Regions from separate parts of the Homo sapiens genome. Here all the other regions are linked to region 4. Evidence: fine-mapped expression QTL. A gene starts in region 4. Each other region holds a variant in brackets. All regions are shown on one strand. Distances are from middle to middle. Region 1 overlaps ABL2 (ABL proto-oncogene 2, non-receptor tyrosine kinase). Region 2 overlaps FAM20B (FAM20B glycosaminoglycan xylosylkinase). Region 3 has its middle 22 kb from the start of ABL2. Region 4 holds the start of ABL2 (ABL proto-oncogene 2, non-receptor tyrosine kinase).

Region 1 (5,955 bases), 68 kb after region 4:
CTTTTGCCTAAATAACATAGGCAATGGTGTTTTTCTGAAGATGCAAAGATCTTGGAATGCTGAATTCCACATATTTTATGTGTTTAGGAAGGACCTTACTTTCACCTAAACTTTTGTTACAATTCTGAGCAGAAGGTAATTATATCTAAAATAAGTGTGGAAATTTAAAATTCAAGTGAAGCTGCAAAATTCTCATCTGTAGTTATTCAATAATAACTATGTGTCCTATGATATGACATTCATGGCATGACTTTTTATTATTTACATATAACTGGCATGAAAATGTGCTTCAACACATTTTCTGCTTTTTTTCTCTTAATTTAAAAAATCGTCACACAGTAAAATGGATTTTGTTGGTTTATTGTACGGTTCTGTGAATTTTAACACATGTAAATTCGCATAACCCCACAAACAGCGGAACAGTTTCATCACCCCAAAAGACTGTCTCATGCAATCCCTCTGTAGTCACATATTCCCCCCCTTTAATCCCTGGCAGCCACTGATGTGTTCTCCACCACTAGAGTTTTGTCTTTCAGCAGTGTCATAGAGCTAGAATCATATAGTATGAGATCTTTTGAGATTGGCTTCTGTGGGAGACTCAGCAAAATGCCTTTGAGATTCATCCAACTTGTGTCTATCAATACTTCATTCCTTTGTATTGTTGAGTGGTATTCCATAGTATGGATGTGTACCACACCTTGTTTATCCCTTCATTCACTGAAGGACATTTAAGTTGCTTTCAGTTTGGGACAATTTTCTTTTCTTTTTTTGTTTTTTTGAGACGGAGTCTCACTCTGTCATCCAGACTGGAGTGCGGTGGCGCGATCACAGCTCACTGCAACCTCCGCCTCCTGGGTTCAAGCGATTCTCCTGCCTCAGCCTCTCAAGTCACTGGGATTACAGGTACCTGCCACAATGCCCAGCTAATTTTTGTATTTTTAGTAGAGACAGGGTTTCACCATGTTAGCCAGGCTGTTCTCGAACTCCTGACCGCAAGTGATCCACCCGCCTCATCCTCCCAAAGTGCTGGGGTTACAGGTGTTAGCCACTGCGCCTGGCCCAGTTTGGGACAATTTTCAATAGAGCTGCCATAAACATTTGTGTTCAGGTTTTTGTGTGAACTTAAGTTTCCATTTTTCCAGTGTAAATACTCAAGAATGGGATTGCCAGGTCCTATGGTAAGTGTTTGACTTTATAACAAACTGCCCAACTGCTTTCCAGAGTGGCTACACCATTTTGTGTTCCCCTCAGCAACATGTAAGAGTTCCAGTTGGTCTGCTTGCTTGTCAGCACTTGATGTCAGTATTTTCTGTCTTAGCCATTCCAATAGGCATATAGTGGTGTCTCATTGTGGTTTTAATTTGTATTTTCTTAATGGCTGTTGAACATCTTTTCATGTGCTTATTTGCTATTTGTATAACCTTTTTGGTGAAATGTCTGTTCAAGTTCTCTTTTGGTTTTTAAATGGGTTGTTAGAGCCTCAACTCATTTTTGCTTGGGCTTTGTACCAACAGTAATGTTTCTTGTTCCCATTGCTTTTCTTATTTTCTTTCCTTTCCACCACACCCCATAGGACTCTCTTTGATATTTTTTTCTTATTAAAAAGACAATGTTGCAGGACTTCAGAGACATACTGTTGGCTAGGTTTTAAATGTGGGTTCTGCTATAATTCACCTTGTGATCTCAGACAAGTTAATTACTTGATAGGATTATTGTGAGAATTAGATAATTTTAAATGATGTATATGAAGTGCTTGATACATAGCTGTATTTAAACCTTTCTTTTTCCTCTCAGTTCTTATCTCAAGAGTCCATTCCCTATAATACTAGTCTTCTGAGATGCTTAGTGAAAAGAATATCTGTGAGAAAAGAAATCTGAGATACATTACATGCTCTAGCTATTTTTTGGGGTTTTTTAAATTTATTTTTTAATTTTTTTTAAAAACAGAGTCTCGCTCTGTTGCCCAGGCTGGAATGCAGTGGCTTGATCTCGGCTCACTGCAACCTTTGCCTCCTGGGTTCAAGCAATTCTCCTGCCTCAGTCTCCCAGGTAGCTGCGGTTACAGACGTGTACCACCATGCCCGGCTAATTTTTGTATTTTTAGTAGAGAAGGGGTTTCGCCATATTGGCCCAGCTGGTCTTGAGTTCCTGACTTCAGGTGATCTGCCTGCCTTGGCCTCCCGAAGTGCTAGGATTACAGGTGTGAGCCACCTCTAGCTATCTTTTGGATGGTTTCTAGGAACGTGAATATATTAATGGCTTTTATAAGTTAGCCATTTCTTTATTGTTGGACTTGTTATATTCAGCATTTTCCAATCTTATTTGACTATGGAACACTTGACTTGTGACATCTATTTAGCCTACTTTTATGAAACACACTTTGGGAAATATTGACTCATTCAGCATGTGTGTTAGTCCATTTTGCGTTGCTATAACAGAATACTTGAGACTGGGTAATTATAATGAACAGAAATTCATTTCTCAGAGTTCTGGAGGCTGGGAGGTCCAAGATCAACGGGCCGGCATCTGTCTTGCTGCATCATGGCAGAAGACATCACCTGGTGGAAGGGCAAAGAGAGTGAGAAAGAGAGCACGAGGGGTTGAACTCTCAGCCTCAAGCTATTTTATATTGACATTAATCCATTTATGAGGGTAGAGCCGTCATGTCCTAAACACCTCCCATTAGGCCCCATCTCCCAGCACTGTTGCATTGAGGATCAAGTTTCTAACATACAAACTTTGGGGGACACATTCAAACCACAGCAGCATGTTACCTCAGTATGGCACCTGATAAGTACTCGTTATTTCTTTATTGAGAGAGGGTCTCGCTGTGTCATCCAGGCTGGAGTACATTAGCACAGTCTCAGCTGACTGCAGCCTTGATCTCTCAGCCTGAAGCAATCCTCCTGTCTCAGCCTCTAGAGTAGTTTGGACTACAGGCACGCGCCACCACGCCTAGCTGATTTTATTCATTTTTTGTAGAGATGAGGTCTCACTATGTTGCCCAGGCTGATCATAAACTCCAGAGATTTTACCACCTTGGTCTCCCAAAGTGCCAGAATTACAGGTGTGAGCCGCCACACCTGGCCAAGTACTCATTATTTATCAAACATATTCATGCATGGTATCATTTAGTTTTTAAATCTGTTTTTCCTTTTTTTTTTTTTTCTTTTGAGGTAGGGTATCCCTGTGTTGTCCAGGCTAGTCTTGAACTCCTGAGTTCAAGTGATCCTCCTACCTGAGCCTCCCAAGAAGCTGGAATTACAGATGGGCACTATTGTGCCAGGCTTAAATCTTGAA[A/G]ATTAGCATTATAAAAATACTGTAATTCATACCTTGAGAGGGGTATGTAGCTTATCAAGTCTTTTGCTTTTTTTAAAGAAAAAATGTTCTCTGTTAATGACCCTTTATCCCTATTTGTATAGGAAGTTCTAGGCAGTTTGGTCCCTAGACTACTAGCATTGGTATCACCTCTGAATGATATTAGAAATGCAGGCTGGGCATGGTGGCTCACACCTATAATCCCAGCACTTTGGGAGGCCGAGGTGGGAGGATTGCTTGAGGCCAGGTGTTTGAGACCAGCCTTTGCAACAGAGACCCTGTCTCTACAAAAAATGAAAAAACTAGCCAGGTGTGGTGGCTTGTGCTTGTAGTGGTATCTCATTGTGGTTTTAATTTGTATTTTCTTAATGGCTGTTGAACATCTTTTCATGTCCCCCACTGCCTCGCCACACAGAATTATTTGGCTCCAAATGTCAATAGTGTCATGGTTGAAAAACCCTGGCTTAAATGATTACATTTGGAAAATTATGAATTGTCATATATGGTACATAATGTTTGTCTTATTATTAAGAATATAACTAAGATATTTTTAAAAGACTCATATCTCAGTATTTCAAAGCATGAATTTTTATCATAAAATATATAAGGAAGATGAAGGAAATTGGAGCAAATCTGTGTAATCTTGGACAAGTTATTTACCTGATAGGATTATTACGAGAATTAGATAATGTAGATATGTACTAATTGTATACATACTAATCTAATAATTATATATTTATATTTGTTCCAAAAGTTTGGAATTTCAGCTTAAGTGGTATTTTGATATATAGGAATGATGTAGAAGTATATACTTTTACAAAATGTTTTATTTTTTATTTTAAAATTTATTTTATTTTTAGAGATGGGGTCTCACTATGTTGCCCAGGCTGGTCTTGAACTCCTGGCCTCAGGTGATCCTCCTGCCTCAGCCTCGTGAATAATTGGGATTGCAGATGTAAGCCACCACCCCCGGCTGAAGTAGATACTTAATATTTATGAGTATTAATAGTTATATGAATATTATAGAAGTTATATAAGTATGGTATACAAGTTATATAAAATACAAGTTATGTATGTTTTTGTTTTGGTTCTTGAGGTGGAGTCTCACTCTGTCACCCAGGCTGGCGTGCAGTGGCGCCATCTTGGCTCACTGCAACTTCCACCTTCCGGGTTCAAGCAATTCTCCTGCCTCAGCCTTCCCTGTAGCTGGGACTACAGGTGCATGCCGTCATACCCAGCTAATTTTTGCATTTTTAATAGAGACAGGGTTTCACCACGTTGGCCAGGCCAGTCTTGAACTCCTGACCTCAGTTGATACGCCCACCTTGGCCTCCCAAAGTGCTGGGATTACAGGCATGAGGCACCACACCCAGCCTTTATGTTTTATATAGGTTATATATACAAGTTATATATATAAGCATTATACAAGTATTTTTATAAGACATTATTTTGTATTAATATAAGCAGTTTCAGAAAAGCCTGTACTTCATTACATCATTTAAACCCGTATTTGAGAGATTAATAAAATTCTGTATTAGTCTATATTGGTCAAGTATAAATCAGTGTAGCAGCCCATGGCTATTAATCAAAATTTTAGGAAGTCTTCAAGGTAATGACAGTTGCAAAAACAACCAAAAACGACACATTTTGAAGTGACAGGCTACCATATTTTCTAGCTCTTTCTTAAACAGATGTATCTCTTAAATTCATGGTCAGAAAATCAACAAATCAGCTGAACCAGAAATCCCATCATAAACAGCTGTTGCCGATAGTTTATGGAATGATGTCAGTATATTTGAGCCAATATGTTGAGTAGGACTACTTATTCCTTCACCAGCAAGCTGTGATAATCTTCATGTGTTCTGTGACTATTTTACTATGTGTTACCTTGCTTGTGGAGCAGTGGTGTAGACCCTCTTTATGAATTGGAAAACTGATTGACCTTAGACTACAGGTTCTAAGGATTACAGATTAAAGAGGTTATCTGTACTTACAGCATGTATTTTATTCACATTAAGTTGAATTTAGGTTACATCCAAGTTATACTGTTCACTTTTAGATGAGGAAACTGAAGAAATGCTGTTAACTTGATCACAGATGTAGTAAGTGGTAGAATTAGTATTCAGACCCAGGGAATCTGGCTCTGGCATCTATGCTCTTGACCACCATGCTCTACTGCTGATTTATACTCATAATATAACAGCTGCCATGCAGCTATTATTATAATTAAATTAATTTCATATTGCCTCACACTTCACATGTGTTAGGTACTCAATAAATGGGAGATGATATTATATTCTCATTAAGTACAACTAGAAAGTTCTACAAGGCATGACTCTTTTCTGTTAATATGCTGTATTATATATTGATTTCCATATGTTGAACTAACCTTGCACTCTAGGGACAAATCATAGTTGGTATAGTAAAATAATCTTATTATCCTGCTAGATTTGGTTTGCTAGTATTAAATAATTTATTGAGGACTTTTGCATCTATATTCATAAGGAATGTTCTTTTTGTGTGTGTGCGCTACCCATGTCTGGCTTTATGTTTTCTTAAATTCATTCTTCACCATCCACTCCCTCATCATGGAAAAGGACTTACGTTAGTCACTGGTTTCTAGCCTTAGGTCAGAGG
Region 2 (5,955 bases), 180 kb after region 4:
TAACCCTTGCAGAAGGAGTAGGCCTGTTGATCTTCCAGGTCCAAATACAACCTTACAAAATAATTTCTGAGCCTCCTAAAGAGTTGCCTTAAGATTTCCTCAATTCTAAGGAGATGGGAGACAGTTCCTGAGGAAACATATTATATATGTAAAAACAACTGAGCCAATGATATACAAACAATAACCAATTTAGGCCAAATTCTGAGTTTGAGACTTACTAATAGCTCTAAGAGAAAGCAGAAGGAAATAATCACCTGCTTTCACCATCACTAAATGACCTCACTCCCTATGTCACAGACAACACAAAGTATACAGGAAAATTTCAATTTCCTGCCATCTCCTTTAGATTCATTTTCCCAAATAACCTGAGAGCTGGTTGTCTGATTTGCTTTTGTATTCCACTGAGTTCTTCAATTCCTAAAAGTCATGAGCCAGCTTGCTCAACAATGCCCCATTTTAACTTATTAATCATTCCCCTATATAAATGTCCTCTACAATCTTCTTACCTACAGTTAGGAAGGTGCTCAACAGCTGCTCTGTGGCGACAGGTTTGATCTCTGTCCGAAGATTAACAAATCTGCCAACTACCAAGGGGGCTCGGTGGAAACCCAGAATCCTGGTTTGGAAGATTGAAGAACAGAAGAGAAAAATCTTAGGGGATGTTTTTTAAGTAACAGTCTTAAAAATTACAGTTCATCATGTCAAATGTGTAAAGGGTTTTTAGCTAGTAGCTAAACCTAATTTTTTAGAGGTACATATATTTAGGAATTTAATGTGAAGGTGTGTATAATTTATTTTAATATACATTTCAGCAAAAAGAATAAGACAAATCTGATAAAATGTGAACACTTTTTAAATCTACAGAGTGGGTATATGGGCTCATTATACTATTCTTTCTACTTTTGTATGATAGAAATTTTTTCATAATAAAAATTAAAAATAGATTTTAGGAAAGTATTAGAAAAAAAATGGGACCCAAACTCATATATGGGTTCAAATCTTTAAATAAAACAGCATGTTGGTTAAAAAAAAAAAAGCAGACTGATCTAAAAGGCTAAGCCCACAGAGCAAATTAAATATAGAGACATTTGAAGATATCTCTAATAATCTAAAAGGTTGAAAACAATGATTTATTTTAAAAAAATGAAATTTCCTGGCTAAAAAATATACACCAACTGAACAAAAGTTGGAGGGGCAGAATTTGGAACACACAGAAAATTTACAATGAAGAAAATAAAAATCACCTATGATTCCACAACCCAGAAATAATTACAGGTGCTGACATTCTGGCATATAAGCATGCTTTCCCTTTAAGTGTGGGTATATAAACACACACTCACACTTACGTATATACATACAATCGAGATTATATTGTATGCAGTTTTATATCTTGCTTTGTACTCATCATTGTATCATGAACCTTTTCCCCAGTCATTAGAAAGCCTTTACAAATGGCTATTGTTTAGGGCTGCTGATTCTGTCCTAAACACAGTCTTAGAAAAGCCACAAAGGCAAGATCAACAGATTTGTCAAAATAACATAGAAATCCAGAGATACCCCCAGAGGCAAGGGAAGGTGGTTAAATCTGACTGTAATGAAGAAACAGCAACCCAAAGCAGAAAAGTATCAAGATCCACAAATGGAAAAGGTTGGGAAGGGTTTTTTGTGTGTGTTTTGTTTGTTTGTTTGTTTGTTTGTTTGGGTGGTTGGTTTTTGAGTCTCACTCTGTTGATCAGGCCAGAGTGCAGCGGCATGATCATAGCTCCCTGCAGCCTGGAACTCCTGGGCTCAAGTGATCCTCTCACCTCAGCCTCCCTGGTACCTAGGACTACAAACGCAGCCTAGATTGGGAAGTATTTTTTCTTCCCATTGAAAATTGCCAAGCCCAAGAACAGCAGCCAGTTTAGCATTGAGGGGCAATGTTACTGTGGCACTTGAGGCTGGCTACGGTGGCACTTAACAAAAGTGACAGGGCGACTGGCAAGAGAACATCTTTCAGACTTTGAGGTAGGGAAGGACTTTTAAATACAAGACTCCCAAAGCCCAAGTCACAAACTGAAACATTATAGTTAGTTAACATCAAAAGTACACAAATACTCTAAGATAACAAATAGGTGTCCTGCTGTGAAAAGATAAACTTTGCCAGTAATGGGGAAATACAAAATAACAATGAAATAACAATGAAATATCACTTTACATATATATCAACAAAACTTAGTGTGTTGGGCAATACAAAACACTGGTACAGAAATGAGGAACTTTATGCCTGTTGGTTTCCAACAAACAGGATAGGAAGAAGGGAGTTGGGGACGAAGAAAAGAGGCAAACAGATAAGGTCTTGGAAAGCCTGATTCTAGTGTGCCATTAAGTGAGGAGAAGGATTTATCCAACTGTCCACCACTAGGTCTTAAAAGGGGCAGCAAAAATTCATGGTATTGTACACACATATCTAAGCTTTTCCATATCAATAGATGTTTAGGTTACAACCAGTTTTCCCACTATTGAAAATGCTACAGCTAAGACTGTTGTATAT[A/G]TATCTTTGAATTTTGTATTCTTTCTCTAGGGTAGTTCCTAGAAATGTCTTAGATATGTGTATAAAAAAGCAGTTATTTGTTCAAAGGATATGAACATTCCTTAATGTTGATATATTTATCCTTAATTTTGATATATAATGCTAGGGTTCTTAACAAAAAGACTGAAACAATTAACAATGCCATAAGCAGCATATGAATCTCAATGTATTCCTCCCAATAAAGTATTATCTTTTTTTTAAGCTTTGCCATTTTCAACAGGTAAAAACAGTATCTCATCTGAATTTTTAAAAATTTCTGGTGAGGATGAACCTCCCCCCACCCCACATATTTATTAGCAATTGACAATGTTTATACTCTTAACCCATTTTCTAATAGAGTTTTAACATACATATGTTTGTATAAACACATATTAAGACCATTAATATTTGTATAAACACATATTAAGGCTATTAATACTCAGATTACATTAGATTCAAGTGTTTTCTCCGTTTGTTGTTTGCTTTTAAATTTTGTCTCTTGCTATATAAGTTCATTATTTTATTTAGTCAAGACTATTGAATTTGTGATTTTTAAGTTATTGCTTTTATGTTTACAAAATCCTAATTCAGAAAAAGACAAACATTTCACCTTTTTTTTTCTGGTTTCCTTATAAATTCATTTTTAGGCTGGGCGTGGTGACTCACGTCTGTAATCCCAGCACTTTGGGAGGCTGAGGTGGGCGGATCACCTCGAGTCAGGAGTTCCAGACCAGCCTGGCCAACATGGTGAAACCCCGTGTTTACTAAAAATACAAAAAATTAGCTGGGTGTGGTGGTGCGTACCTGTAGTCCCAGCTACTCGGTAGGCTGAGGCAGGATAACTGTTTGAACCCAGGACGTCGAGGTTGCAGTAAGCCAAGATCAGGCTACTGCACTCCAGTCTGGAGGACAGAGTGAGACTCTGTCTCAGAAAAAAAATTTATTTATTATTTTATTTTATTTTATTGAGACAGGGTCCCACTCTGTTGCTCAGGCTGGAGTGCAGTGGTGTGATCACAGCTCACTGCAGCCTCGACCTCCCAGGCTCAAGCAATCCTCCCTCCTCAGCCTCCCCACTAGTTGGAACTATAGGCACACGCCACCACACTCAGCTAATTTTTGTATTTTTTTAGTAGAGACGGGGCTTCTCCATGTTGTCCAGGCTGGTCTTGAACTCCTGGGCTCAAGTGATCTGCCCACCTCAGCCTCCTAAAGTGTTGGGATTACAGGTATGAGCCACTGCATCCAGTCATAAATTAATTTTTTAAAACAAATATTGTTAGCAGTTTCTTTTAAAGTCAGCCAATATGGCCTTATGAAAGAGCTGGTCAGCAGAGTAACTGGGATACCAGACAGTTCAGCTGCAAGGTTCCTGACTAGTAACCTGCTGAAAAAGAAAAAAAAAGAATTTTCCTAGTTAACTTACAAACTTATAATTCACATCTATTTTCTTTCCTTTTTTTTTTTTTTTAAAGACAGAGTCTCGCTCTGTCGCCCAGGCTGGAGTGCAGTGGCACGATCTCGGCTCACTGCAAGCTGTGCCTCCTGGGTTCAAGCGATTCTCCTGCCTCAGCCTCCCAAGAAGCTGGGACTACAGGTGCCTGTCACCACGCCCAGCTAATTTTTTGTATTTTAGTAGAGACGGGGTTTCACCATGTTGCCCAGGCTGGTCTCGAACTCCTGAGCTCATGCAATCTGCCCACCTTGGCCTCCCAAAGTGTTGGGATTACAGGCATGAGCCACTACGCCTGGCCCTTTCCTTTTGTAATTATTCTGGTTTTTGAAGCTGTGCATAGTTTGTATAAAGAATAATAAAACTCATATTTCATGCTATATGTTTCCAGCACATGGAAATAAGTCAGCATTACTTACTTAAAACAAATACATAACAAAACAACAGGATGGCTAGACCCAATTAACGACCAGTTCAATTCAGAGATTTAAGTTCAAAGTTTATTTACCAAGAATATCTTCACTGATGATAATAACAGAGCAGGCCAGAAATGAAATGACCTAAAGAAGCATGGAAGTAAAATACTTCAGTATTCCTGGTGCCAACCAAATTATGAGACTCATACAAGTTTAATGGAACTAGTCAATTAGCTATCTAAAATCGATAACAAGTTATTTATTAGTGTTGCATCCTTCTGAAGGAGTCCACGAGTCCTCTCCAAGAAAGATTTTTGAAAGCAAACAAAATGAACATAAGCTGCTGTGATCATACGCACCTGTCCAAGTGAAAGGCTGCTACCTCTGCATTGTGTCTATCATAACCAGCATACGGTTCCCCTTCCACCACATGGTCTCGGCTATACCTGCAAAGTGAATGGGAAGCACAGATGTATACGTGGATTACACCAGTAACAGGTGACAGCACAAGTGGTAGAATACACCCATTAGCAAGCCTGATTCTGCTATAGTCACCTTCTCTGTCAACCCTGCAAACAACTGTGGATTAGCATGAATTGCCGGTAGATGGAATGAAGATGAGGTAGAGAAGGAAACTAGAATTCTCTATCTACGTCACCAATCATTCTAAGAATAAAACATGGAAGCTGTCATTTTTGCCCCACTAAAGGGCTTTTGATGTAGTTTTAGTACAGATAAAAGGTAGTTTTCTGGAAGGCAAGGACTGTCTTTGTATTGCCAGCACAGTGTTAAGCACATAGTTGGTGCTTAATAAATGTCTACTAAAATGTTTATTAGACTGACCTGAAGAAATGAAGAAAAATGTGTAATTAAAACTTTTGCTGGCCAGGCACGGTGGCTCACACCTGTAATCCCAGCACTTTGGCAGGCCAAGATGGGTGGATCACCTGAGGTCGGTAGTTCGAGAACAGCCTGGCCAACATGGCGAAACCCCATCTCTACTAAAAAACACCAAAATTACCTGGGTGTGGTGGTGAATGCCTGTAATCCCAGCTGCTCAGGAGGCTGAGTCAGGAGAATCGCTTGAACCTGGGAGGCGGAGGTTGCAGTGAGCCGAGACTGTGCCACTGCACTCCAGCCTGGGCAACAGAGTGAGGCTCTGTCTCAAAAAACAAAAAACTTTTGCTTACCAGAATGGCTGTGGCAAAGCTTATAAGAGAAATTTAAATTTGGGGGAAAATAGTCTGATATAACTCAATCTTTGTTAATGGGAAGGCAACAGCGCTTTTGAAAAAAGTTGTTTGAATAACCATTCTTGTTCTTTTTTTTTAAGTTTATGATGACGTACTACAAGGAGTCCTGGACTGGCAGTGGGAGGTTGGTGTGGCTGTCATTACTTGACTGGGTAAGCTTGAGCAAAACCTTTCTCTTCTCTGGGTCTCAGATTCCTTACTTACAATATTAGGGGCTGGACTAGGAGGTAATTTCTAAGGTCTCTTTCATCTCAGACTGCATTCTGATGATTTTCTATCACA
Region 3 (5,955 bases), 22 kb before region 4:
AGGGACCAGCTTTGTTGTTCATAAAACTGGCAACCCAGATGGGACACTGGACTAGATTAGGGAAGGCCTATTTGGGAAGGCCCTTTGCCTCACCGCAGACCTGGCAACAGGCACCTGACAGCTGGAACCAGCTTTGTCAGTAACATTGTGAAGATTAAATGTAGACATAAACTCTTAGGACAGTACATGGCACAGGATAGGAATAGTCTGATTTTTTAATTAATTTATTTATTTTTTGAGATGGAGTCTCACTCTGTCACCAAGGCTGGAGTGCAATAGTGTGATCTCGGCTGGGGCAGGCTCAAGTAGGCTGCCTCAGCCTCCCGAGTAGCTGAGATTACAGATGTGCACTGCCACGCCTGGCTAATTTTTGTATTTTTAGTAGAGATGGGGTTTCACCATGTTGGCCAGGCTGGTCTCAAACTCCTGACCTCAGGCAATCCGCCCACCTCGGCCTCCCAAAGTGCTGGGATTATAGGTGTGAGCCACCATGCCCAGCTGAATAGTCTGAATTTTAGCCATTATTAGAGATCTGGGGAACTCTTTTTTCCTTTATGTGTAGAGGAGTTGGCCTACTGAGGAACTCTACCACCAATCAGTCTGTGCTATGACTGAGTTTCTGGAGTCAGTCTACCTCTAAATGTGTTCATGGACATAGAGTAGCAAGCATGGCTTCATGTATCCCTATACAAAGTGTTTTCATTTCATTTCCTATTGCTGCTGCAATGAATTCTGGAGGCTCTAGGGGAGAGCCTGTTTTCTTGCCTTTTCCATCTTCTGTAGGCGGCCTGCATTCCTTGGCTTGTAACCCTGCTTTATTCCAGGCCTCTGTTTCCATCGTCATACCTCCTCTTCTTATTCTCAATATCCTGTCCCTCCCCTTATAAGATTCATGTGATTGCCGGGCACGGTGAATCATGCCTGTAATCCTAGCACTTTGGGAGGCCAAGGCGGGCAGACTGAGCTCAGGAGTTCGAGACCAGCCTGGGCAACATGGTGAAACCCCATCTCTACTAAAATACAAAAAAAATTAGCCAGGAGTGGTGGCGTGCGCCTGTAGTCCCAGCTACTCGGGAGGGTGAGACAGGAGAAGTGCTTGAACCTGGGAGGCAGAGGTTGCAGTGAGCTGAGATTGCACCACCGCCCTCCAGTCTGGGTGACAGAATGAGACACTGTTTCAAAAAAAAAAAAAGATTCATGTGATTACTTTGGGCCCATTGGCTAATGCAGGATTATCGCCCCATCTCAAGATCCTTAATTTAGTCACATCTACAAAATCCATTTGACCATGTAAGATAACATATTCTCAGGTTCTAGAGATTAGAAGGTGGGCATCTTTGATGAGGAAGTGTCAGTTTATGCTTACCACACTGGACAAGGAGTTTATCTCGGTTGTGGTGGACACATTTCTCTGAATCATACAGAGGTCATGTTAGCCACTTTCTCACGGATGGCTCTTTTCCCGAAGAATAACAGTGGGAAAGAAAAATGCCAGCCTTTGAAAAGACAGAGAGACAGAGGAGTATACCATTTTTCTTATGTGAGTGAAGAAATGGTGATAGGAATGGTTACTTTCTGAAAATATGCAAGGACTATCTAAAACCCTGGAATGTTAAGGGCTTGATGACATAGAAGTCATAGTAGCAACTCCAGCCTCAGCTGGAAGTAGGCTGAAGTAGGCTGCATGGCCTCTTTACACTTTCGCATATGCTTCCAGATCCCACATGTCAGTGACAAATGATCGTGTTATATAGCAAAACACGTAAGAACACAAGCTCTGGAGTCAGCCAAGACCCACATCCTTGCTCCGCTAGCTCTGCTATTTACTAATTGGGTGACCTTGGATGACCTGCTTAACTTCTCTAGACTAAGTTTTCTTGACTGTAAAATGGGGATAATGAGAGGTCACAGGTTTGTTATTAGGATTACATGAGATAATGTATGCAAAGTGCTTAGCATAGTGTCTGACACAGTAATTACTATTCAGTAAATTATTATTATTATTATAACTGGAATAAATATGAGGAAAGATAAAGTAGAACTGCACCATCTAACACAACAACATATTCTATAATCCCCTATAAATCTCCCCCCAAAGTCCCACTCATCATAGAAACTACTCTCCTAAATTGCTCTTCTTTGTCTCTTTGGAAACTCCTATCCTTTCTGGGTCTCTTCTTCTCACTTTTGGAATAATTTCTGTCAGACATCTTCTGTATGGCTTCTCATTTAGGCTCATTCCATTCTGTTTCTCTGCCCATTTAACTAATGAGTATAACAAAGGCACAATATTGAGTCATATAGATATCCCTTTAAAAGAGCTGAAAGTGGCAGAAACAAGTCTGTGAATACTTACCCTGGTCTCTTTTTGTCCTATCAACTTCTGTTTTTTTGTTTTGTTTTGTTTTGTTTTTGAGACACAGTTTCACTCTGTCGCCCAGGCTAGAGTGCAGTGGCACGATCTATCTCGGCTCACTGCAACCTCTGCTTCCTGGGCTCCAGTGATTTTCCTGCCTCAGCCTCCGAGTAGCTGGGATTACAGGCTCCCGCCACTGTGCCCGGCTAATTTTTGTATTTTTAGTACAGATGGGGTTTCACCATGTTGGCCAGGCTGGTCTCGAACTCCTGACCTCAGGTGATCTGCCCGCCTTGGCCTCCCAAAGTGTTGGGATTACAGGTGTGAGCCACCATGGCTGGCCATTTCTTTCTGTGTTGTTGTTGTTGCTGTTTTGTTTTGTTTTGTTTTTTCCGAGATGGAGGCTCACTTTGTCACCCAGGCTGGAGTGCAGTTTGTGCAATCTCGGCTTACTGCAACCTCTGCCTCCTGGGTTCAAGTGATTCTAGTGCCTCAGCCTCCCAAGTAGCTGGGGTTACAGGCATGCGCCACCACGCCCAGTTAATTTTTATATTTTTAGTAGAGACATGGTTTCACCACATTGGCCAGGCTGATCTCGAGCTCCAGTTCTCAAGTGATCTGCCCACCTCGGCCTCCCAAAATGCTGGGATTACAGGACAGTCAACCTCATTTTTTATCCTCATGCTCTTCCAGCTTACAACCTTGTTCAGGTGTGCCAAATGTTTGGAGAACCATATAAATTGAGCTTATTTATATTCAGTTTGGAATTCTGAAGCATTTATTAAACTCTTTCATCTATGTTGACTGGGGAACAATGCATCTGCTCAATAGTGACTGCTCTGGAAAAGTCCTTGTTAAGCTACTAGCTGCAGGTTTCTTCTATCCAAGGAGGACATCTAGAGGCTAACTGTGATGTGTAGCCTTTCCAGGAATGCTTTCCAAATTGTTTTCTTCACAGATCCAATCATAAATCATAAATCACATACCCAGTAAGTCTAACTAGAATAAATATTAAAGTATAGCTTATCTTAAGGGAAGAAACAGACCTAATGAC[G/A]TTACATTTATTTTCCAGGCACAGTAGAAGTACATTAAGGGTACAGAAGAACTTTTAAATGTGATGAGTTGGGAGAAGAGCCATAAAGACAATTTGGGGGCTGGGCGCACTGGCTTATGCCTGTAATCCCAATACTTTGGGAGGCGGAGGCAGGTGGATCACTTGAGATCAGGAGTTCGAGACCAGCCCAGCCAACATGGTGAAACCCCCCTCTCTACTAAAAATACAATAATTAGCTGGGCATGGTGGTAGGCGCCTGTAATCCTGGCTATGTGGGAGGCTGAAGCAGATGAATGGCTTGAATCCAGGAGGTGGACGTTGCAGTGAGCTGAGATGGAGCCACTGCACTTCAGCCTGGTCAACAAGAGCAAAACTCCATCTCAAAAAAAAAAAAAAAAGGATTTGGGACAGGTGAAGAAATTTGAGCATGTTGGTTGATGTGACTGAGTTAATATTGATTTTCTTAAGTGTGTTAGGACCCTGTGCTTCTGCAGGACAGTATTCCTGTTCTTGGGAGATTCAAGCTGGGATATTTAAGAATAATGTAGGAAGACATCTGCAACCTACTTTCAAATGTTTTAACAAAAAGGAGATGTGTGTATACATATGTAGAGAGACAAAGCAGGTGTGGCAAGAGGTCATCAGTTGGTAAATCTAAGTGGGGAGAAATGTGAGTATTCATTACACTTTTCTACAACTTTACGTTTTTTCCAAATGAAAAAAGTTAGAACAGGCTGGGAATGATGGCTCATGCCTATAATCCCAGCACTTTGGGAGGCCGAGGCCCGTGGGTCACCTGAGGTCAGGAATTCAAGACCAGCCTGGCCAACATGGTGAAACCCTGTCTCTACTAAAAATACAAAAATTAGCCGAGCATGGTGGTGGGCACCTGTAATCCCAGCTATGTGGGAGGCTGAGGCAGGAGAATGGCTTGAACCCCAGAGGCGGAGGTTGCAGTGAGCCGATATCATGCCACTGCACTCCAGCTTGGGCGAGTGAGTGAGACTCCATCTAAAAAAAAAAATCAGAACATAAAAGCAATGAGCAAAGTCACTTAAAATATTACCTGAATTTGTATCTCCACCGTTGTGACATCTCTTATGCTGTGTTTTGTTCCTGTGTTGAAATTGGACTTTTTTTTTTTTTTTTTTTTGTGATGGAGTCTCACTGTGTCACCTAGGCTGGAGTGCGGTGGCACGATCTCAGCTCACTGCAACCTCCACCTCCCAGGTTCAAGCGATTCTCTTGCCTCAGCCTCCTGAGTAGCTGGGATTACAGATGCATGCCACCACACCCAATTGATTGATTGACTGATTAATTTTATTTATTTATTTATTTTTGAGATGGAGTTTTGCTCTTGTTGCCCAGGCTGGAGTGCAATGGCATGATCTCGGCTGACTGAAACCTCTGCCTCCTGGGTTCAAGTGATTCTCCTGCCTCAGCCTCCCGAGTAGCTGGGATTACAGGTGTGCACCACTATGCCCGGTTAATTTTGTATTTTTAGTAGGGACAGGGTTTCTCCATGTTGGTCAGGCTGGTCTGGAACTCCCAACCTCAGGTAATTCGCCCGCCTCAGCCTCCCAATATTTTTTTATTTTTAAAGATGGAGTCTAGGCCGGGCGCGGTGGCTCGCGCCTGTAATCCCAGCACTTTGGGAGGCTGAGGTGGGCGGATCACCTGAGGCCGGGAGTTCACGACCAGCCTGATCAACATGGAGAAACCCCATCTCTACTAAAAATACAAAATTAGCCAGGGGTGGTGGCACATGCCTGTAATCCCAGCTACTCGGGAGGCTGAGGCAGGAGAATTGCTTGAACCCAGGAGGCGGAAGTTGCGGTGAGCTGAGATCACGCCATTGCACTCCAGCCTGGGCAACAAGAGTGAAACTTTGTCTCAAAAAAAAAAAAAAAAAAAAAAGATGGAGTCTTGCTCTGTGGCCCAAGCTAGAGTGCAGTGGCGTGATCTCAGTTCACTGCAACCTCTGCCTACCTGGTTCAAGCAATCCTCCTGCCTCAGCCTCCCGAGTAGCTGGGATTATAGGCACCTGCCACCATGCCTGAATAATTTTTGTATTTTTAGTACAGGCAGGGTTTCACCACGTTGACCAGGCTGGTCTCAAACTCCTGATCTTGTGATCCGCCTGCCTCGGCCTCCCGAATTGCTGGGATTACAGGCATGAGCCACCGCGCCCAGCTGAAATTGGAGTTCTTATGTCTTCCAATCTCACTGTATTGTAATCACTCACATAGTTATTCTGTGCTCCTTGTATCACTCAGCATACAGCAAACACTCACAAATATTTGCTAATGCTAGAAAAAAAAAGTGATAGAAAACTTCACAGCTCCCCACTGTGCCATGCTCCCTCTGGTCTTCCTTAGGGCGGGGAGAATGCTTCCTTCCTCTGTTTCCCCTTCCTCCAGATTCCCACGTTGGGGGAAGCCTTCCTGGCCCTGCTTCTGTGCTCTTAGGTCATTTCCCCTTCTTTAGCACTCATTGCACAGTATATTCTAATTGTCAATTTTCTTTACTGGATTCTCCAACCACA
Region 4 (5,955 bases):
GGAGGTTGGAGGAACAGGAGATGGAAGAACATTAGGCAATTATAATCCAGTTATCCTGGAAAATAACTTCGAAACACTAGGTGAAACGTTTATTTTGTTTATTTATTTATTTATTTATTTATTTTTGAGACAGAGACTCCCTCTGTCACCTAGGCTGGGGTGCAGTGGCGCAATCTCCTGTCACTGCAACTTCCGCCTCCTGGGCTCAAGCAATTCGCCTGCCTCAGGTTCCCCAGTAGCTGGGATTACAGGCACGCGCCCCCACGATTGGCTAGTTTTTGCATTTTTAGTAGAGACGGGGTTTCACCATATTGGCCTGACTGGTCTTAAACTCCTGACCTCAAGTGATCCGCCCACCTTGGCCTCCCAAAGTGCTGGGATTACAAACATGAGCCACTGTGCCCGGCCCATTAGGTGAAAATTTTAGACTTAAGACTTTGTACGTAATGAATGAGAGGGAGAGTGTGGTCAAAGCAATGAGAGAAGCAGTTTCTTTGAGTGAGTTGCTTGGTGCTAAAGGTGAGGAATCTCTAGGAAGAAAGGGCTAGTAGCGGGAGAAACCAGCGCAGAGATGCCTAAGCTAACACTGTGTCTTACATAACGCTGTTTATATAGATGAAGGGAAGAGGTAGATATGAGAGATACTGTAAAACTGTAAAAAGTATGGCAATAGCCTAGAAATGCAGACTGGTGAAGTCAGGGATTGGTGAGGCATTACTCACAAGCTCCTTCCTTCTGGAGAGAGTGGTGTTGCTCCTGTGATAAGGATGATGAGGATGAAGAGTATCTGTGTCTTCAGCACGCCTTACTGCTGTTGGTGATGTGTCTGATCTTTTATGCTGGCCTCTGGCCATTGCTCAAATTTATATATATATATATATATAAAATTTGAAAAAGTTAGGCTTGTAAAACCTAAAACCATTATGTTTTTTGTATTAATAGTATATGCATATATGACACCAGTTATATGCCAAATACTGTTTTAAGTACTATACATATATATTGACTAATTTAATTTTCACAATATTCCTATAAGGTAGATACTATTTGTTATCATCATCAGTTTACAGATAATGTACTGAGACACAAAAAGGTTATGTACTTTGCCCAGATCAAATAGTCCATAAGTATCAGGGCCAAGTTATGAACCCAAGCAGTCTGGCTTCAGAGCCCCTGCCCTTAGCCACTGCACTCTACTGCAGGCTGAGCAGCCCTTATCAGAAATGTTCGGACCACAAGTGTTTCAGATTTGGGAATATTTACACACACATAATGAGATATCTTGGGCATGCGACCCAAGTCTAAACACAAAATTCATTTATGTTTCATATACACCTTTATACACATAGCTTGAATGCAATTTAATACAATATTTTAAAAATTTTGTGCATGAAACAAAGTTTATGTTAAGTACTTACGTGAAATGTTCCACCTCTGGCATCATATTGGTGCTCAAAAAATTTCGAATTTTGCAGCATTTTGGATTTTCAGATTTGAGATGTTCAACCCATATATTCATCTATCTTTATATAGTATGCATGAATTAGCAGAGAAACCAAACCATTATCCCCAAATTAAAATTTTCTCCCATAATAAAAATCAAACAGTAAACCAAATTCCGGCTCTGTGACATCTTTATCCCTTTCGAATGAATTTTTTTCAGTAGTTGCAAACACTGGGAATTAGAAGAAAAGACAGGTATTTTAAACACAGGGAAACTTTAATCCAAATGGAAAGTTCATATTTTATCCAGTGTTTACACATAGTGTTTCCGTTCCCATTTTGGAGTTAATTTCAGTTATTTCTGGCTACACCCTAGATGGCAATGGAATAATTTCATAGTGCTTTTACAACAGGCAATATCTACGTCAGTGGATGGTTCATCTAAGGTCAACCTGGTTCAGGAAAGATATGCAAAGGAGAGCTTCATCCACCTCTTCTCCCAACCCTACATTTCCAGTGGTTGTTTTGTTCCTTCTTTGCAGTGGCTCCCGTCCTGTCTAATTTAAGCAAAATTTCAGTGTAGTACCTCCATTAACTGATACTTTTTATAAAGCAAATTGGGAAGCCAAAAGAATAACAGGAGAATGATCAAGATTTGAGAATTAAAAAAAATTGAATTAAGATGCAAGTAAACACAGTGGGAGAGGGGGATGGCGAGTCAATTGTATATAGTATATGTGTATGTATAAAACGCTTCTTTTCTGCCTCATTCACTCTCTTTAGACTGCATAAGCTAAAATGAGTAAGTTCTGACTCAGAAACAGGGTCAAAGATATATATTTTTTCTCCTTTGTCATCAAAAGAAGACCTGACCACGTGCACAGTGTATAAAGGATGCCAGTGGGAAGATTAACTTTACTGTCAGGCATTGTAAGGAAACAGAAACTCACATATGGTGAGATGGTAAAGGAGTTCAAGAGGAATTCATGGTAATATAATATGAGGAATGGGGCTACAATTGCGTCCCCAATGAGACTATAGAAGGCACACAATCCAGGCCAGTGCGATTTAACATCATGAAATAATCTCCAAAAATTAAAATCAAATAAGGTAGCATTTTACTCTCTTCTTGTAAATTTTATACCATTTTAATTTTTACTGGAGGCCTGCTGCTGACAAGGGTGTTTAAAAGAGATCCCCCTGGGTATTTTAGAGCTCCTTAACTGGATGGCAAGGACCAAATAAATGCCTTGTGCTTTTCTGCCCCACCTGTGCCTGCACCTGAGCTGCGCACGCGGTGGCACTGAGCCCTCGACTCACTCATTTGACAGGTGGAGGTGGGATGGGGAAGGCCGGAGACCGACCAACCCCAAAGGCGGTAGCGTGTGGAGCCGAACGCGGGAGGGGGTCGGCTGAGGCGGATTGAGGGGGGGGACGCCGAGGTGCGGCGACAGGACGCGGAGGACGAAAGACCTCAAGCAGCGGTGGCCGGCAAATGAGGTGGGCACTGGGGGACCCACCCTGCGAGGAGGCGGGGGCGGGGACGGGGGGCGCGGCGCGGCAGGGCGGGGCGGCAGCCGGGAAGCCCTCCTTCCCCGCGGCGGAGGTGACTGGCGGGCGGGGGGCGGGGGGCGGGGGGCGGGAGACGCTCTGTCCCACGCTTTCCCAGCGCTCGGTGGTTTAAAGATGGCGGCGGCGGTGGCGGCGGCGGCGGCGGCGGCGTTGGGGGCGCGGAGCCGCGACAGGAGGAGGGAAAAGCAGAATCTGTGAGTCGCCTGGAGGCAGCGCGGCGGCTGCCGTGAGGAGGCCGGGTGCGGAGCCGCCGGTGGCCCAGCCACTCAGGGCCAGGGCCTGGGCTGGGAGGGAGAGACCGGAGCAGCGCCAGGAGCCCGAGGCCGGAGCCGAGGAGGAATGTGACCAGGGGTCGGCGGGGGCGCGGGAGTACGCGAGAGCAGGGATGGGGCAGCAGGTGGGCCGCGTCGGGGAAGCTCCGGGGCTCCAGCAGCCTCAGCCCCGCGGGATCCGGGGCAGCAGTGCAGCCAGGCCCTCCGGCCGCAGGCGGGACCCGGCGGGGCGCACCACAGAGACCGGCTTCAATATCTTCACCCAGCATGGTGAGTGTGTCTGGGAGCCGGCATGAGAGCGTGGGGGAGGCCGGGGGTGGGGTCGGGGCGGGGTGGGTGGCGGACGGGCTGCCCGAGGGGTCGGAGGGTGGAAGGTGCCTGAGAGTGGGGGCGGAATCCGCTGCCATCTGGTCCAGTCCTGGGAGGCGAGTCACACCCCTCCCCCCTCGCGTCTCTAGCCTGGCTGGCAGATCCCGGGGGCGGAGAAGGAAAGAGAAGTGGGTTTGGGGACCCTGGATGGTCTGTCCTCTACTCTGGGACGGGACTATGCGGCTGCAGAAAGAAAGTGAATGGCAGCTTCAGGAGAGGGAAGGATGAAGGGCAGTATTAGCTCAGTCCCAGAGGTGGGAGCATAAACCCGTCGTTAGTGAAGGGGAAATGGGTTGTATCCTAAGGGATTGGGAAATGGGAACTGAATTTCAGGAGATTGTGGAGTACAAGGTATGTGTTTACGTTAGGTGATGAGCAGTGTCAGGATAGTGAACTGTGGACAGTGTCAAATGCTTTTCTGTAGGGAAGATGAAGTTAGCATCATCTTATCACTTTTGACATGCTTTTGTGGTTTATTTTGTTTTGTATTTCGTTTTTACTAGAAATGAAAGGCTTTGCCAAAGCCTCTGTACTATGCTTCAGAGTAGGACACACAATTCTGAGATTGCTGGCAAGGGCTAGAGGTTGGTGGGCATGGTTAGGACGTCAGTCAGGATATGAACAAGTTTTCCTTTGTAGTGTGTGCGTGTGCCCATATACATACATACATGTATGTATGCTCCCTGTAGTCTGAAACCTATTATTTTGATCTCATTGTCAATGTATTTTTAGAATAGTTGTCTCCAAACTTTTTTTGTCTTGTTTTTTTGTTTTGTTTTTGTTTTTGTTTTTTTTGAGACAGAGTCTCGCTTTGGTCCCCATGATGGAGTGCAATGGCGGGATGTCGGCTCACTGCAATCTCTGCCTCCCGGGTTCAAGTGATTCTCCTGCCTCAGCCTCCCGAGTAGCTGGAACTGCAGGTGTGCACCACCACGCCCGGCTAATTTTTGTATTTTTGGTGGTGGTGGGATTTTGTCATATACTCCTGACATCAGGTAATCTGCCTGCCTTGGCCTCTCAAAGTGCTGGGATTACGGGTGTGAGCCACCACCGTTCCTGGCCCAAACTCTTTTTTTTTTTTTTTTTTTTTTGGAGACGGAGTCTCATTCTGTCGCCCAGGCTGGAGTGCAGTGGCGTGATCTTGGCTCACTGCAACCTCTGCCTCCCAGGTTCAAGCGATTCTCCTGCCTCAGCCTCGGAGTAGCTGGGATTACAGGCGCCCGCCACCACACCCGGCTAATTTTTTGTGTTTTTAGTAGGGTGGGGTTTCTCTATGTTGGCCAGGCTGGTCTCGAACGCCTGACCTCATGATCCACCCGCCACAGCCTCCCAAAGTGCTGGGATTACAGGCGTGAGGCACTGCGCCTGGCCACATGTCTCCTATTGAAGATGTGCTTGAGTGTCTCTTTCGGGTATATGAACACTTTATGAAGGTGATATATGAGCTAATCTTTATTAAAATCACTTCCTAAAACACAGGATGGAAGAATGGATTAGTAGTTTACAGGGAAGAAATCATCCAAGTAAGCTTCACTTTGTGGGAAGTGTTACTATGCATTAAACTTGGCCTAGTAGGCAATGGTGATCCTCTTGCTTTACTATCTTATTCGGTATGTAAGATTTTCCAAGAAAGAGGAAGTCATGAAGAATGGAATAGGAAGACATTTTGAGGATTTGGATCTATGGAGAGGGAGAACAATTTGGGTAGAAGAAACAACTTGAACGGGAACATGGGAATAGATATAATTTGTTGATGGGCTAGTGAGGAGACAGCTGTCAGGAATGAAGCATCATTATGAGTTGGAAGAAAAAGATCATAGAGCAAAAATTGGAAGAGTCAAGTTCTGGTTCTGGCTCCACCTGCCTGGGTGATTTTAGTCACCATCTTTGGGTTTCTTTATCTGTAAAGTGAGGAGGTTGGACTGGATGATCTCTAAGATACTTTCTGGTTTTAAGATTTTATGATTCTAATTAAGAAGCAGTAGAAAGAAAATTTTGATAGGCTGGATGGGACTGGGTTATGGAAAATCTGGCAGAGAAGTTTATATCCATTTACCTGATTGGCTAGTCTTTACCTGAAAGACTGGCCTTGAGTGGTGGCAGTGGAAATGGGAGGAGTAATTTCAAGGGTCCTTTCATTCATTCAACAAACAAGGGTTTTTTTTGAGCACCTGTTATGTACTGGATTGTGGGAATGTTGCTGTGAACATAACAGAGTCCCTGCCCTTTGGAACTTAAAGGACTTTATGATTTGATAGAGGATGAAAGAAGAGAGATCACTTTGGAGTATTTGTTAAGG

The links. PIP is the estimated chance that this variant, and not a neighbour inherited with it, causes the effect. A credible set is the group of variants that fine-mapping cannot tell apart.
Region 1: its variant is the best candidate, but not a certain one, in a credible set for the expression of ABL2 in whole blood (INTERVAL, PIP 0.80).
Region 2: its variant is the best candidate, but not a certain one, in a credible set for the expression of ABL2 in skeletal muscle (GTEx, PIP 0.60).
Region 3: its variant is the best candidate, but not a certain one, in a credible set for the expression of ABL2 in caudate (GTEx, PIP 0.64).

The regions. Positions count from the first base shown.
Region 1 is chr1:179,158,570-179,164,524 of GRCh38, reverse strand. The region is part of intron 1 of ABL2 (ABL proto-oncogene 2, non-receptor tyrosine kinase); the gene reads left to right. Among named protein-coding and RNA genes, the nearest start is that of ABL2, 68 kb to the left of the region's middle. The variant A/G (reference allele first, on the strand shown) is at 3,301.
Region 2 is chr1:179,049,190-179,055,144 of GRCh38, reverse strand. It overlaps FAM20B (FAM20B glycosaminoglycan xylosylkinase), which reads right to left. Exons shown (of 8, transcript NM_014864.4): 3 at 4,780-4,866; 4 at 507-616. Among named protein-coding and RNA genes, the nearest start is that of FAM20B, 26 kb to the right of the region's middle. The variant A/G (reference allele first, on the strand shown) is at 2,534.
Region 3 is chr1:179,249,199-179,255,153 of GRCh38, reverse strand. No RefSeq gene overlaps it. Among named protein-coding and RNA genes, the nearest start is that of ABL2, 22 kb to the right of the region's middle. RefSeq lists a silencer at 4,486-4,658. The variant G/A (reference allele first, on the strand shown) is at 3,411.
Region 4 is chr1:179,226,843-179,232,797 of GRCh38, reverse strand. ABL2 (ABL proto-oncogene 2, non-receptor tyrosine kinase) reads left to right here and starts at 3,121. Exons shown (of 12, transcript NM_007314.4): 1 at 3,121-3,557. The coding sequence starts at 3,401. RefSeq lists a silencer at 3,206-3,615 and an enhancer at 3,071-3,827.